Linked DNA regions of Homo sapiens: region 2 is linked to region 1. Evidence: fine-mapped expression QTL. Tissue or cell type: whole blood. Region 1 holds a variant in brackets; the other region holds the start of a gene. All regions are shown on one strand. Distances are from middle to middle. Region 1 overlaps LOC105372652 (a long non-coding RNA gene). Region 2 holds the start of B4GALT5 (beta-1,4-galactosyltransferase 5).

The links.
Region 2: it holds the start of B4GALT5, and the variant in region 1 is fine-mapped to the expression of B4GALT5 in whole blood (TOPMed, PIP above 0.99).

The regions. Positions count from the first base shown.
Region 1 is chr20:49,767,003-49,769,909 of GRCh38, reverse strand. All of the region lies in intron 2 of LOC105372652 (a long non-coding RNA gene), which reads left to right. Among named protein-coding and RNA genes, the nearest start is that of SLC9A8, 44 kb to the left of the region's middle. RefSeq lists enhancers at 1-536, 537-1,386. The variant C/T (reference allele first, on the strand shown) is at 1,510.
Region 2 is chr20:49,712,829-49,715,703 of GRCh38, reverse strand. B4GALT5 (beta-1,4-galactosyltransferase 5) reads left to right here and starts at 1,826. Exons shown (of 9, transcript NM_004776.4): 1 at 1,826-2,128. The coding sequence starts at 2,014. RefSeq lists silencers at 1,614-1,943, 2,234-2,353.

The sequences.
Region 1 (2,907 bases):
ACATGTTTGTTTGACCTGTGCAACATCAGTGCCTTCTTCTGATCATAGCACCCCAATTTTCCTTCAGACAATGAAGCAAAGGCTATAGGTGCCCTGGCCATTGTCCTAACCTTCAATGCACGCTGGCCCAAGCTTCGTCTCTTTGTCTGAGGACTTTCTCAGACCAGCAGGGACCATGCTCTTCCATGCTGGAAGTTCTGGGCAAAAACTCTCCTGCTAGCAACTGTCAGACAATGACTGACAGAAGTTGGTAGATGAATACCCCAGCTCCCTCAGCACTAAGATGGGATAACATTGAGGTCTATGTTTGCTATGGTTTGAATGTGTCCCCCCAAAAGCATGTATTGGAAACTTAATCCGCAATTCAAATGTGCTGGGGAGTGGAGCCTAATGGAGCCCTCATGAGAATGGATTAATGCCAGTTGTGAAAGGGCTTGCGGCTGCGAGTTCAATCTCTTGTTCACCCTCACCTTCTCTTACGTTTTCACCTTCCACCATGAATGATGCAGCATGAAGGCCCTTGCCAGATGACAGCACTATGCCCTTGGACTCCCCAGCCTCCATAACCATGGGCCAAATAAACTTCTATTGTTTTAAATTGCCCAGTCTGTGGTATTCTATCATAACAGCACAAAATAGACTAAAACAATGCTCTACACTGGCTGCCAGAGTTCCCTGATGGGATTGTGCTCCAGTTGTCCACAGTAGTAACTTGCTGGATAATACTTCCTGTTTCCGCAGGCTTCTCTTCTCTGTCTCATTCCCTCAATCCCCTAATGGTGCTTTCTGGGATCATCTCCCAAATAATCCACTTGCACCTCAAATCCTCATCTCAGAGTCTGCTTCTGAGGGAGCCCAAACAAAGGCATGAAACCTTTCCCATTCCCCAGTCTCAGTCTATATGGTTAAAGTGGGCCTGAACCCCATTCTAGGATGGGTCAGACTCAGGTCTGACCAATGACACCACCATACCTCTTTTAGGTACAGGGATGGTTCAGGGATGACCATTTGAACTCAAACAAGGCCAATAACAGTTTCATCCAGGATTTATGTTGAAACGATTGAGAAAGAGAAACATTTCTCCTGTGGTTTCTAAACTGTCAGGATGTTGGCTTGTGAGCCCACAATCCTCTGAGAATGAAGCCACATCAGAGACAGAGCAGTGAGATGAAAAAGAGAAACCACATCCCAATGGCTTTAGGTGCATCTCCGGTTCCACTGTGGTGTATAAATAATTTTTTCATTTATTAGGCTGGGGCATGAGAACTCCCCTGTTCCCCACAGGCAGGACTACTCCCTATTGTTTCACATGTTTACTTTCCCTGCCTGGCCCCTGAAGCCACTGGGGTTTGCAGTCTCTGTATTTGGCTGCAAACCAGTTTTTGCTTGAGTATTCTTCCTGAACACTGTTCAACCTGAATGCTTTCGCAACACGATGGGGCAAGGACAGTTACCGAAAGTTCAACGTGGTGGAATAACCTGATTGGGAAATCAACTGTCTTTCATTTT[C/T]TCAATTCCAGGGCCATTGGGAAAGAATGAAAGGCATTTCCCTACTCTTTGCCAAGAAGGTAGCTGGGGCTTTGTGATGGAAAGGACTGGGTGTCTTTTGTTTCCCATGCAGAATTAAGAGACCGTCCTTCCCCCAAAGTCTGGGTCAGAGAGTCTCAGACTATAAAGGCAGGACTACATACATTAGGGGTCCCGGAGGAGCTTGTTCCAAAGGTGGAGGTTCAGGTCCCAGCACAGGTGTCTCGGTCACCTGGGAATTTGTCTTTCAAACATGTTTTCAATTTGTCTTTCAAACATGTTCCTCCAAACACTGAGAAACTTGGGATTCTTTTATTTGTATGTATACTTCTTTTTTCTTTTTCTTTTTTTTTTTTTTTTTTGAGATGGAGTCTCGCTCCGTCACCAGGCTGGAGTGCAGTGGCGCGATCTCGGCTCACTGCAACCTCCGCTTCCCAGGTTCAAGCAATTCTCCTGCCTCAGCCTTCCGAGTGGCTGGGATTACAGGCATGTGCCACCACGCCCAGCTAATTTTTCTATTTTTAGTAGAGACGGGGTTTCACCATGTTGATCAGGCTGGTCTCGATCTCGTGACCTCGTGATCCACCCACCTCGGCCTCCCAAAGTGCTGGGATTACAGGCATGAGCCACCACGCCCGGCCCTTTTTTTTCTTTTTCAGATAGAGATGGGGTCCTGCTATGTTGCTGGTCTCAAACTCCTGAACTCAAACAATCCTCCCACCTTGGCCTCTCAAAGTGCTGGGATAACAGGCATGAGCCACTGTGCCCAGCCTAGGATTCTTTTATTTGTAAATGACAGAAGCCCCATTTGAAACTGATTTTTACGCAAAAAGCAATTTATTGGCTTAAGTAACTGAAAAGGACTGAAGTAAGTAACTGAAAAGTACTGGCTTCAGACCTGGCTGGATTCAGGAACTCAAATGAGGTTACCAGACATAGTCTCTCGCCATCTCTTGGCTTTGCTCTTCAGTGAGTTGGCTCCAGTCTTAGTATCTACTTGATAGCAAGCTGGCAACCAATAGCTCCAGGCCTGCATCCTGCCAGGTATGAGTGTGGTGGGAAAGGAGGTCACTTCCTGGAAATGCTGCTGAAGTTGCAGCATTCACTCTGATTGGACGAACTCAAGTTGTGGTTCATCTCTGAACCAATCATTGTCACTTGAAGAAGGCAATGCTTTGATTGTCCAGGCCTGGTCACATGCTTCTTGGTGGAACCAAGGGGTATAAACAGCCTCACCTGAACTGCAGGGAGTGGAAGCGAGGGAGGGGAGGTTTCCCAAAGAAATTGGTGTCCAGTATAGTCTAGTCTAGGCCATAAATCTTCCCCTCATGTTAGGTGCTTTGGGCATCTGAGCATCCTGGGAAGTTCAAGTTGCTTTTT
Region 2 (2,875 bases), 54 kb after region 1:
CGATTCACAGGTGATGAATAGAGAAGCTCAGAGAGGTAAGTGACTTTCCCAGAGTCACACAGCCAGGAGATGCCAAGCCGAGATTTGAACTCACATCTATCTGAGTCAAAATTCTCTGCTTTCCTTTTTGATCGTTTAAGCCTCTTCTCTTCCACCATACCATTCTCCAGGGGTATTGAATTAGGTGACAGCTAAGCACTCTTACTATGTGCACTTTGCATGTATTACTTAAATCCTCGCAACAACCTGATGAGGTTGCTAATAACCTCCTCCATTTTACCGAGGCACAGAGAGTTTAACTTGCGTGAGGTCACACAGCTAACAATGGAAAAGCTGGGAGTCAGAGAACCTGGGCAGTGTGGCTCTAGACTCCCCACTTAAAGGATCAAAGAAACACTGTAAAAAGTAGAAATCACTTTAGGAATATAAATCAGAATTATTGTTGATTCTCACAGAATCCCTGCAAAGTCCTCTCCCCTCCCCACTGCTTCTGGCATTCCAAGACAGTACCCTAGTTTCAGATATGTCTACACAGGGACACTGGCCTCCTCAGTCCAGCTCCTTGAGGCTACTGCTTCTTGCCATAAATTTCTAGGACTGTTCATTGCCTTCTGAGGTCCTTTGAGCTGATGCTGATCTGAAAGCATTTTTTTGGATATGGTCCCATACCCAGGTGATGGGGATAGGATACCGATTTGCCTGCAGGATAAGAATTAGAGGTCATACAGACTGCTGAGACAGTTACAACCTAGAGGTCAAGGGCCTGACATGGGAGACAGGCCAGTTTTGATTTAAGCCCTTACTGCAAGGCTTGGGTGAATTGCCTTTCCATCTAGAAACCTCAGTTTCCTCATTTGTATGATAGTAATAATAACAGCACACATCTCAAGACTGGTGGGGGAATTTCATGGCATGAGTGAAGTCCATGTTTCTCAGCAGAAGTCTAGAGACATTGACAATTGTTATCATTATGCTATTTCTGATACAGTAGGATCCCTGACTACAGCTCCAAGCTCATCCCTATTTCCCCCCCTACTTCACTGGATTTTATCCATGTTGGCCTTGGATTCAACTCGGGGGCAGATCAGCCCTTTTCCTACCTCAGGGCCTTTACACCTGCTGTTCCCCCTGGTATGACTGCTTTTTCCCCAGCTTATTCAAAAAAGCTGGCGCTTTCTCACCCTTTTATATCTCAGTTCGTGTCACTGCTCAGTGAGGCCTTCCTTGACCACTCCAGCCTGCCTGCAATACATCCTCCTGTTTTATCGTATTCATATGTGTTACCAGTACCTGATATTACTAGCTGATTTGTTTCTTTTATCTCTCACATAATGTAAGTTTCAAGTAGACAGAGATTTTTATCGTTTTTTTTCTCTGTAGCATGCCCAGCGCCAACAACTGTGTCTGGCATTCAATAAATAAATGGTGAATTGAATGAATGAATGAATGAATGAATGAGGGTGTATACCAGGCCGAACCCCCAAGCCTTGCAGTCCCCACTCTTCTGCTGCAGTGGGCAACGAGATGAGTCAGACTTTGTAGATGGCCCCTTGGCCCCCGAGATGGGGGACGAGCTAGCGCGGAGCACTTGGGAGACATTCCCCGAAAGCCTGGGCGGTGGCCGCACTGGGAGAGGGTCTGTCGCCATTTGGCGATTACTCCATGCGGGCTGCTGTGGGCGCCGAGCGAGGGTCGGCGGCGAGCGCAAGCGCGCGGGTCTTTTGCGACGGTGCCCGGCGGCACTGGCCCCGCCTCCCGCGCGTGCGCCCCGCCTCCGCCCCCGCCGCTGCGCCCGCTCGGGGCCGCTCTGGCCCCCGCCCGCTTCATGTGGCCCGGCCCGCGACGGCCGGCGGCTGGGAGCGGCGAGGCGGCGGCGGCGGCGAGTGGCGGCCCGCGAGGCCCGGGAGGCGGTGGCCGAGGCCCAGGCGGTGGCGGCGGCGGCCCAGGAGGCGGCGGACGGGGAGCTGCGGGAGCAGGCCCGGCCTGGCTCTCTAGCGGCCGCCTGGCTGCAGCATGCGCGCCCGCCGGGGGCTGCTGCGGCTGCCGCGCCGCTCGCTGCTCGCCGCGCTCTTCTTCTTTTCTCTCTCGTCCTCGCTGCTGTACTTCGTCTATGTGGCGCCCGGCATAGGTAGGAAGGGGGCTTGGGACCGCGGCGGCTGCCGCTCTGGCCTTGAGGGACCCGGGGAATCCCCGCCCCTCCCTAAGGGGCCCCGGCCGGGAGGCGGCCCTGAGCCTGGTCCTCCGAAGACTCCGGAGTCCTGGCCCGGCTCTCGGGGACGCCAGGACATTCCTGCCCTCCGCACCCCAACAGGCGCCCGGGATCCCTCTCCCGCGCCAGCCTCCGGCCCACCCCGCCCCTCCTAACGCCACCCTCGCGAACCCGACTGTACCTTCACGCCCGCCCCTTGCTCCGGAACCCCCTTCCCGCTCTTGCCTCGCTGGAACTCCCACTTCCCGCTCCTCTGCTCGAGAACTCCCGCTTCCCCTTCCCTTCCCCGGGGTCTCCTCGAACCCCCATTCCCGGCATTCCCCGCACCCCAGTCCCCCGCGGCGCGCCCGCTCTTCGCCGAGCCCATGTGCCCGGGTCCCAGGCCGCCCCACCTTCTAGCTCCCATCCATCCTCCCCCACTCCCCATGACTCCATCGTTTCCTGCTCCCGTGAGCCCCCTCCCTCCCCTTTCTTCCTCTACTTCCCCTATTACATCCACCTCCAGGTCCTCCTCCCTAACTCACGTTCACCTCTTCAGTGGCCTGATCTCTCTGCCTGCCGGTGGCACCCCCCTTCCCCTTACAGAGGTCCACCCCCATTCAATCTCCTGCTAATCCCCTGAGCGTCCCATGCCTCTTCCCCATCTCCCCCCCCCCCACCTCGCGT